2 separate regions of the Homo sapiens genome follow, and region 2 is linked to region 1. The links come from fine-mapping of genetic effects on gene expression. A gene starts in region 1. The other region holds a variant in brackets. All regions are shown on one strand. Distances are between the middles of the regions.

Region 1 (4,388 bases):
AGACCTGTCTCTGTAGAGTCCTAAGCTCTCAGGGTTCAGGAGGCTACCCAGGAACAATGAGCCCTTGTGCCTGAAGCTTGGGCACAACTACCCTCTTGATTTTCTGTTTGGCATCCCAGGCACCACAAACCTGCCACGGTCATACCAGCCTGGCCCAAAGGGCAGTGAAAGGAAGTGTGCTCATGAGGCAAAGGCACAACCTCTGGACCCTGGTGGCAAGTGGCCTGTCCATGCTGAATAATACATGAAGTTCCTGTGGGACTGGGAAAGAAGGGCAGTGGCAGAGAAGTTGCACCATCTCGGATTAACCTTTGGGTCACCCACAGAAAAAGAGAGAATCCCAAATATGCCTTTTTACAGTTTTTTTTTTTACCTCCATTGCCCCAAGTTTCAAAAAATCCATATAACGCCTTCAGCCCATTCTAAACACAGCCCAAGAGCATAGCTCCAGACTTATACACCTGTGCACACACGTGCACAGCACGAACTCTTGGGTAACACCCCACGTGCCTGCGTGTGTGCGTACACACACAAAGGGCATATATGTACAAATACTCAAAATAGGAAAAGACTTAGAGATTGGGATTCACAAGCCCTGGACACCCCTTTAATGACCACAGAGAAGCACCTTTAATCTGAGCTCCCTCTGTAAAACGGAGACCACATGATCACTTGCCTCATAGAGGCAAGTAAGTTTTGCAAGTTGGTAAGAAAGCTCCTAGGCTGTATGCACTTAGCTCACCTGAACTGTGCTGGAGGCTGGAGTCAGCAGGCTGAAGAGCAGCCTGTCTTAGAAAGAGATTTGGAGTGAGAGTCACCAAAGGCTTGATTTTCTTTTCTTATTTATTTATTTTTTTAGAGACAGGGTCTCACTCTTTCGCCCAGGCCACAGTGCAGTGGTGCGATCATAGCTCACAGTAATCTAAAACTCCTGGGCTGAAGTGATCCTCCCACCTCTGCCTCCCAAAGGGTGGGATTACAGGCGTGAACCACTGCACCTGGCCTGTAGCCTGTTTTTCTATCCCAGCTCTGCCTTCATTGAACTGGGTAACTTTGGGCAAGTCCCTTCCTCTCTCTGGGCCTCCCTTTCTCCATCTGTGAGAAGGGAGTTGGACTACAGGAATCCTGACACCCTGCACCTGTCTCCAGACTGGGGTCTGCTTCTCCCTTCTGAGTCCGGAGTGGTGGGGATGGCCTGCTCTCAGACCTCAGTCTTACCTAGAGAAAAGAAGGTGGCAGGAAACCTTCCTAAGAAGGGTGGGACACTGCACAGCCGGCCTCCCAAAACACCTGGTTGAGCAGGTGCTCTGGATGCCCTGGGGGCAATCCATGCCCAGGTGGGCAACCGAGTCCTAACCTGAGGCAGATGCTGAGGGAAGACCCTCCATCAGGAACCCGCGGCTGATTGCGAAACGCCCCTTCCGCACCCGACGGAGGGGCTGGGATGGAGCCGACTCACCCAGCCACGCACTGTGCCTTTGCGCCCCAGCCGCGCACTCTTCCTCACTTTCCCGGGCTCCCCAGTGCTGCAGCCGGGAAGGGCAGAGCAGGGCAGGTCCCCGACACCGCGTGGGACCCGGCTCCGGGCGGCGCAGCCAACCTCCCTCCCGAGCCCATCGCCCCCTCCCGGGCGCCCAGGCCGTCTCAGGGGCTCCGTCCCGGGATACCTGCCGGCCCCGCGGGAAGGCAGGCGGCGGGGACCGGGCGAAGCCGGCCGACCCTGGCCCCCGCGCAGTGACCCCGGAGCCCCGCGCCTTACCCAGAACTTGGAGCCGAGCTCCCCGGAACCGCACAGGGCGTCCATGGGGCCGAGGCGCGGCTGCAAGGAAGGCGAGCGCGGTCGGACCCAGCGGCGGGCAGAGCGGGCGCCGGAGCCGCCTCCGCCCTCCGCACCCCGCGCTCCGCCCGGACCCGCCCTGCCGAGCCCTACCCCAGTGCCTCTGGGTCCGGTCTCCCTGCCCCCGTCCCGCGGGTTGCGACAGCGCCTCCCTGGGAGGGACTTTGGGGCAGAGGTGGGGGGGCCCTTGGCACGGCGACAGCCCCTGCGAGCGGCCCCTGGGCCAAGCCAGGGGGATGTCTCTCTAAATACCGAGGCTAACAGTCCAGGAGTCGAGTCTATTTCCAAGGGGGAACTGGGATACACAGGCGCTCCCACTCCCGAACAAGTCCGTGGGGCCGATGAGTCATTGAGTAGGGGACGTAGGGAGAGGGATTTAACAATCTTTCCTAGTAAAAAAGGAATCTTTGAGAAGGTCACGTTCCTCTCCGGAGGTCAGTTTCCTCATCTGTAAAATGGGAAGGGCTTCTGTGCTCAATCAGGAAGCTGACCTCTTCCCCATCAGGTTCCAGAGACCACTGGCAGGCGCCACACGGGGAGCACACGGGGTGTGCTCCGCGGGTGTGTACCCGTGAGGCGGGGGTGGGGGCCGCAGCATCGTCCAGCGGGGGCCTCTTATGTCCTCTTAAACTGCTGCCCTCTTAGGCTCTGTGGCTCCCTGACCTTGCCACATCACCTCGGCACGTCTCTGGGCCTCTACTTTCACATCCGTAAAATAGAGACAATCATAGAAGAGAATCTTCCTCCCAGGGTTCTCTGAGGATTGAATGGAAAGGGTAGGCAAAGCGTATTTCCTGGCACACTTAGTGGGCACCCAACATGTGTGAATTCCCTCTGCTTCAGCCTGATCAGGGTTGGGGGGGGAAGGACAGGTGAAGCCCCAGGAGGAGCCCCACGTGAGTGTCCTCGTCCTCGTCCTCCTCCTAAGGCTGAAACTCTACATTCCTGATCTGTAAAATGGGCTTGTCAGTGCTCTCCTTCTCCTGCTTGCCTCAGCTCTCCTTCTCCCGGTATCCCCTCAGATGCGGGGATCCCTCCATCTCTCAATCCCGCTGTTGCCCTGTCTTCCTTAACACAATCCCAGACGCCAACTCAGCACCGCTTGTTGGGGCTCAGAAGGAATTCTCCCTGGCAAATCTTTCCCTGGCCCTTCTCTTCCCTGCCTTTGCCCACAGGTCTGTCCAGTTTCACCCCGGTGACCCCTTTTCTGGCCCTTGTTCTCAAGAGAAGGTGTTTCCTTCCTTGGCTGCTCAGCGGCAGGTGTGGGTGGGAGCCAGTAAGAGTGCAGAAGGGGCAAGCCACCTCCTATCTCTCTGGGCAGCCAGGAGGTCACTAGAAGGGAAGTCTCCTTGGCTATAGGCTATCAGAACCAAGATCTGGCTGGGCATGGGATAGGGGTGGGAGTGGAGAAGATTCCCCTTTCCCAGGCAGTCAGACCAGGGACTTCTACCCCTCCACTGGGCAAGTTCTTTCAGCCCCTTCTTTGTCTGCCCTCTTCCTTTCCACTCATCCACACATACCCTCCCTCTCCTGTCCCCCTACCTTCATCTCTGGGCAAAATACTTTACAGAGCTTTACACCTTGTTACGGCGTGCCTTGGATTATATTTAGTTATGAAGAGTCTGTCTTCCCTGCTAATCTGAGAGGTCCCCAAGGGCAGGGACTAACTCAGTCCCCTCCAATCCCCCTCCATACCTTTTATACACTGTGTGATCTCAATAAGCTCCTTGATGCCTCTGGGACTTCATTTCTTGAGAAACGTGGACAGGGTGATATCTAAGCTCTCTTCCAGCCCTGGTGGGCCAGGCTTCTATGGCCTAGGCAGCTGGGAACCTTCCTCCACCCCTTCCATGACCCTGGTCATGGCTTCATCAGCACCCACTGCCCCTGTGTTTTGACCTTGTCTACCCACCGGCTTCCTCCAACTCTCCCTCCTCTCCCATTCCTTTTCTAGGGCTTGTGGGGTCATAGGCACCAGATTGCTCTGGGCTTGAGGAGACCTGGGGACTTTCCTTTAGGGCCCTTTGGGAGGTGAGCTCCCCAATCAGACCTCCTTTCTGAGATGGAGAGCCCAGAACTAGCCTGAGCTTCCGTCCGGGACTTTCCAGCCCCACAGTTGGCCAGGCAGTGCACTGGCTGGAGCTCTAGTTTTGGGCTAGGACCCTTGGGTTCTGGCTTCAGCATCGGAGCTGAAGCACCATCCCTTGCAGCCCCAGGCTTTTCTATCGCTATTGCTTTCCCAAGGCTATAGCACTGGGTTGGGCACTCTGAGGGCGTGGTGGGGGCCCTTAGCGATCCTCACCTTCCCCCATCTCTCTTGAGGTATTGGGGCTTTACCCCTCCAGGCCACTCAGGAAGTGTGTCCCCTTTCACAGAGCCCTTGAATAATAACCACAATATTTCTAGGATGTTATTGTTTTGGTTGTTCTCACCAGAGCAAGAAATCTGAGGCCCTGAGACACCCTACAGCTTGCTCAGCGCCACAGAGCTTATCCCAGCACACGCAGGAGGCGCCCCACGTCTGCCGAGGAGACTGTTTCTGCGCAGTCTC
Region 2 (4,388 bases), 420 kb before region 1:
CTGTTCTAGAGATGTCATTCAATTAGCAATTATAAATAGCTATCTAAAGCCAAAGAACTAGGCGCCCTTAAAACATAAACTCTGAAAACATTCAGGGAAAGGAAGCCTGAAGGGGTTTAACCTTAACCTTTTCACTATTATTTCCAAAGAAGATAATGTCTTTTAATAGTTGTTTAGCACTTTTATGAAACACATTCATTGTTGCTTAAGGGAAACCTACCGTGGCTTTTTAAAATTTGATTTAAGAATAACTATTCTTAAATTTAAATAGTCAACTATTCTTAAATCAAATTTTTGTATACATTACTGAATTTGCTTAAAAGACATGCCTTAAAGAGGGCAGTGGAAGAAATATAAAGGACAATTTTGAAGCACTCGGGCCCACATGTGTATGCTAATCACCAAAAACTTTAGCCCTTTGGAATCTTGGGAGAGTCTCACATCAGGGAGTGTTTGAATGCATTCTCATTTTATCCTTTGACCAAATTCTCATCCATTCCCATTTTACAGATTGAGGTTTAGAAAGAGTCTATAAAATGATTTGCCCCAAATTCTAGGCTAGTTAGTGACTAGATTTGAAGCCAGGTTTGTCAGATTCTATTGCCTGATTTTTTTTTAAGAGGGAGTCTCGTTGTGTTGCCCAGGCTGGAGTGCAGTGGCGTGATCTCGGCCCACTGCAACCTCCGCCTCCAGGGTTCATGTGATTCTCCCACCTCAGCCTCCTGAATAGCTGGGACTATAGGCACATGCCACCACGCTCGGCTACTTTTTGTATTTTTAGTAGAGACTGGGTTTCACCATGTTGTCCAGGCTGGTCTTAAACTCCTGGCCTCAAGTGATCTGCCCGTCCCGGCCTTCCGAAGTGCTGGGATTACATGTGTGAGCCACAGCACCCAGTCTCCCTGAACTTTTAATAACACTAACACCTTGGCCGAGTGCAGTGGCTCACGCCTGTTATCCCAGCACTTTGGGAGCCGAGGTGGGGGGATTATCTGAGGTCAGGAGTTTAAGACCAGCCTGGCCAACATGGTGAAACTCCATTTCTACTAAAAATACAAAAATTAGCCAGGCATGGTGGCAGGCACCTGTAATCCCAGCTACCTGGGAGGCTGAGTCAGGAGAATCGCTTGAACCAGGAGGTGGAGGTTGCAGTGAGCTGAGATTGTGCCACTGCACTCCAGCCTGGGTGACAGAGCAAGCCTCCGTCACAAAACAAAAAAACACACTACACCTTTAGTTCCACTAGACATTTTTCTTTTCCCTCCCTCCCTCCCTTCTTTCTTTTTCTTTTTGTTTTTTTTTTATTTTTAAATTCTCTTTCTTCCTTTCTTTTCTTTCTTTCCTTCCTTCCCTTTCCTCCCTCCCTTCGTTCTTTCCTTTCTTCCTTCCTCTCTTTTTCTCTCTCTCTTCAGTTGTTTATTGCTGAATTGACTCCTGAATGTGTGAATTAATATGCATACCTGAGAAAATTGAGAATTGCAGTTCTGAGACCAGAAGCAATGGACCTGGTGGACCCAAGAATAGATTATCTGAAGCGTGTCCTATTTTACTTTCTCACTTCTCTTTTCTGTCTAACAACACTGGTGCTCCCTCCCACTCACTTTTTTTTTTTTTAACCTGAGTGATACTGTGAGGCCTTATTAATATTTAAATTGTTATGTATAATTTTTGTTCTTTTTTGTGTGTTTATAGACTATAGTGCATATCATTTTATTCCAGACATCAGGAAATGCTTTAGGGTATGGGATTTTCTTGTGGGTATGAGGAAGAAAGGACAATGGGCTCATTGCCTGCTCAGAGAATTAAGTACAAAGGCGGCCTGAGTCCTGTAATTCTTAATAACTCAGATGACTGAGTCAGGCAGGCCAGAGTTCTGGCCCCAAAGCTAGTGACAACTTGAAAAGTTAGTCATTGACCAGACAATCAACTTGGAGTTTACCTATGAAATCATGATATGGTGAGGATTAAATGGAGAAAAAATGGCTGTAACTGCACTGACTGACTTATAATTGGTGCTCAATAAATAATAGCTGCCATTTTGTTGTTATTGTTCTCTCTTTTCTTTTCCCCCTCAGTCATTTTTGGTTGTCAGTTCTTTCCTTTAAAGTGCTAGTTTGGTTGAGTTAGAATTGATTTCATTATATAGATAATTTTGGAATGTCAGAATACTATATCTGTAATTACATTGGACTAGTCATTAAAAGAAAGTTTAGAATAAGATAATAGAGAATCAGTCTGTAGAATGGCTATTGGGGGAGAACTATTTTTGCATTTTGCTTGTCATTCTTTTTCTATATTGAG[T/C]TCATAGATTACTATACAGCAATCTGGGGTGAGTTTGTTTTCTTCATCTGAATGCTTAAGGAAACTTAGGTCCTCCATTTGAACAAATCAATCCCATACATACAATTACTTTACTATCCAGTGTATATAAGAATTCACGGCTGGGCGCCGTGGCTCACACCTGTAATCCCAACACTTTGGGAGGCCAAGGCGGGTGGATCACTTGAGGTCAGGAGTTTGAGACCAGCCTGGCCAACATGGTGAAACCCCGTCTCTACTAAAAATACAGAAATTAGCTGGGTGTGGTGGCGGGCACCTGTAGTACCCAGCTACTTGGGAGGCAGAATCGCTTGAATGTGGGAGGCAGAGATTGCAATAAGCCGAGATCGCGCCACTGTACTCCAGCCTGGGCGACAGAGTGAGACTCATGGTTCACTGCAGTTTTGATCTCCCTGGCTCAAACGATCTTCCCACCTCAGCCTCCCAAGTAGCTGGTACTACAGGCGCATCCCAAAATACCCAGCTAATTTTTAAAAATTTTTTTGTAGAGACAGGGTCTCCCTGTGTTGCTCAGGTTGGTCTCAAACTCCTGGGCTCAAGCAGTCCTCCCACCTCAGCCTCCCAAAGTGCTGGGATTACAGGCATTAGCTACTGCACCTGACCTCTTTTATTTTTAAAGTGGTTTTTTTTTTTGAGGGGTCTCATTCTGTTGCCCAGGCTGGAGTGCAGTGGCATGATCATAGCTCACAGCAGCCTTGAACTTCTGGGTCCAAGCAGTTCTCCCACTTCTGCCTCCTGAGCAGTAGGGACTATAGGCGAGTGCCTGCTAGTTGTTGTATTTTTTTTTCTAGAGCTGGTGTCTTGCTGTGTTGCCCAGGCTGATCTCAAATTCCTGGCCTCAAGCAAACCTCCTACCTCCCAAAGTGCTGGGATTACAGGCGTGAGCCACTGCAAAGCCTTAATTTAGGCCTTCTAAAACCTTTTGAAAATTTAAATTGAGATTGATTAAGCCTGACAGTCACTTTGTTATATTAGTTTCAGTTTGATTTTTGTTCCTGAAAATTCTTCCTGACACAAGGAAGCTCATTATTTCTGACTTGCTGATAGATGAAAGGTGTATTTCTCCAAAACTGTTGTGTAAATGGTGGTAAAATCTATAAATTTAAAATAAAAAGTATGTCAATTAAAAAATTTTAAGATACTATATTCATGTGATTCTGTTTTCATTCTTTGTGGATAACATTTGTTGTTTGGACTAGTCTTCATTGAGGAACAGTCTGGTTAATTTGTTTTATTTCATGCATCAGAGTTCAGCTTTTTGTTTATTTGATGATAAATAACATCTTAAAATTAACTTACATTTCCTAATATTTGTACATGCCAAATAAAATTTCTACAACAAAAGCAAGCTTTGTAAAGTGAATTTAAACTTTTTAAAAATTTTATTTTGTTACTTAATATGCTACAGTGCATATTTTAAGTTATAAAGAGATTGAAATGCATCTTAATACAGCTAAAGTTTAGTGACTTCCAAAGCTATTCTATGTACAGCGTTAAGAATTCAAGTAATATTCCTTAGGAATGGTGAGAAGGGACATTAAAAAAAAAAAGAATTCAAGTAATATTCCCAAGAAAGACATCAACCTTTGCTTGCCTCTTAATATTTACACCCTTTAAATACTAACACACTATTTCTTGTTTTTTAAAATTCATTTTTTTCTTATTCATATCATGTTAGTATCTCTAGCAAAGGCCTTTTGATTTTATGTCTTAATTCCAAATTTAGGCTTTTTAAAAGTGAAACTATATATTATCAAGAATCAAATAGGACATTAGAAGTTCTTGGCAGTTTATGTACTTTATATTCTTGAAGTTTTTACTTTCTTATTCAGCTTGTCTGTCATATGATTCCTTATCTAAGACTCAAAAAGTATTCTAATTTTTTACATTTGTATTAATTTGCTGCTGTTATAATAGATGATTATACCAAGTAATGATACCAGTAACAGTCAAAGGAGAAAGTATTTTAACATTCTTTCAACTAAATATACCGAAAGAAGAAACTTTTCTTGGTATTAAATTAATTAAATTGAAAGTGATCTTTATTC

The links. PIP is the estimated chance that this variant, and not a neighbour inherited with it, causes the effect. A credible set is the group of variants that fine-mapping cannot tell apart.
Region 2: its variant is the best candidate, but not a certain one, in a credible set for the expression of ABCC3 in subcutaneous fat (FUSION, PIP 0.66).

What each region holds. Positions count from the first base shown.
Region 1 is chr17:50,632,353-50,636,740 of GRCh38, reverse strand. It overlaps ABCC3 (ATP binding cassette subfamily C member 3), which reads right to left and starts at 1,860. Exons shown (of 31, transcript NM_003786.4): 1 at 1,760-1,860. The coding sequence starts at 1,804. RefSeq lists a silencer at 1,841-1,890.
Region 2 is chr17:51,047,949-51,052,336 of GRCh38, reverse strand. The region is part of intron 3 of SPAG9 (sperm associated antigen 9); the gene reads left to right. Among named protein-coding and RNA genes, the nearest start is that of SPAG9, 71 kb to the left of the region's middle. The variant T/C (reference allele first, on the strand shown) is at 2,302.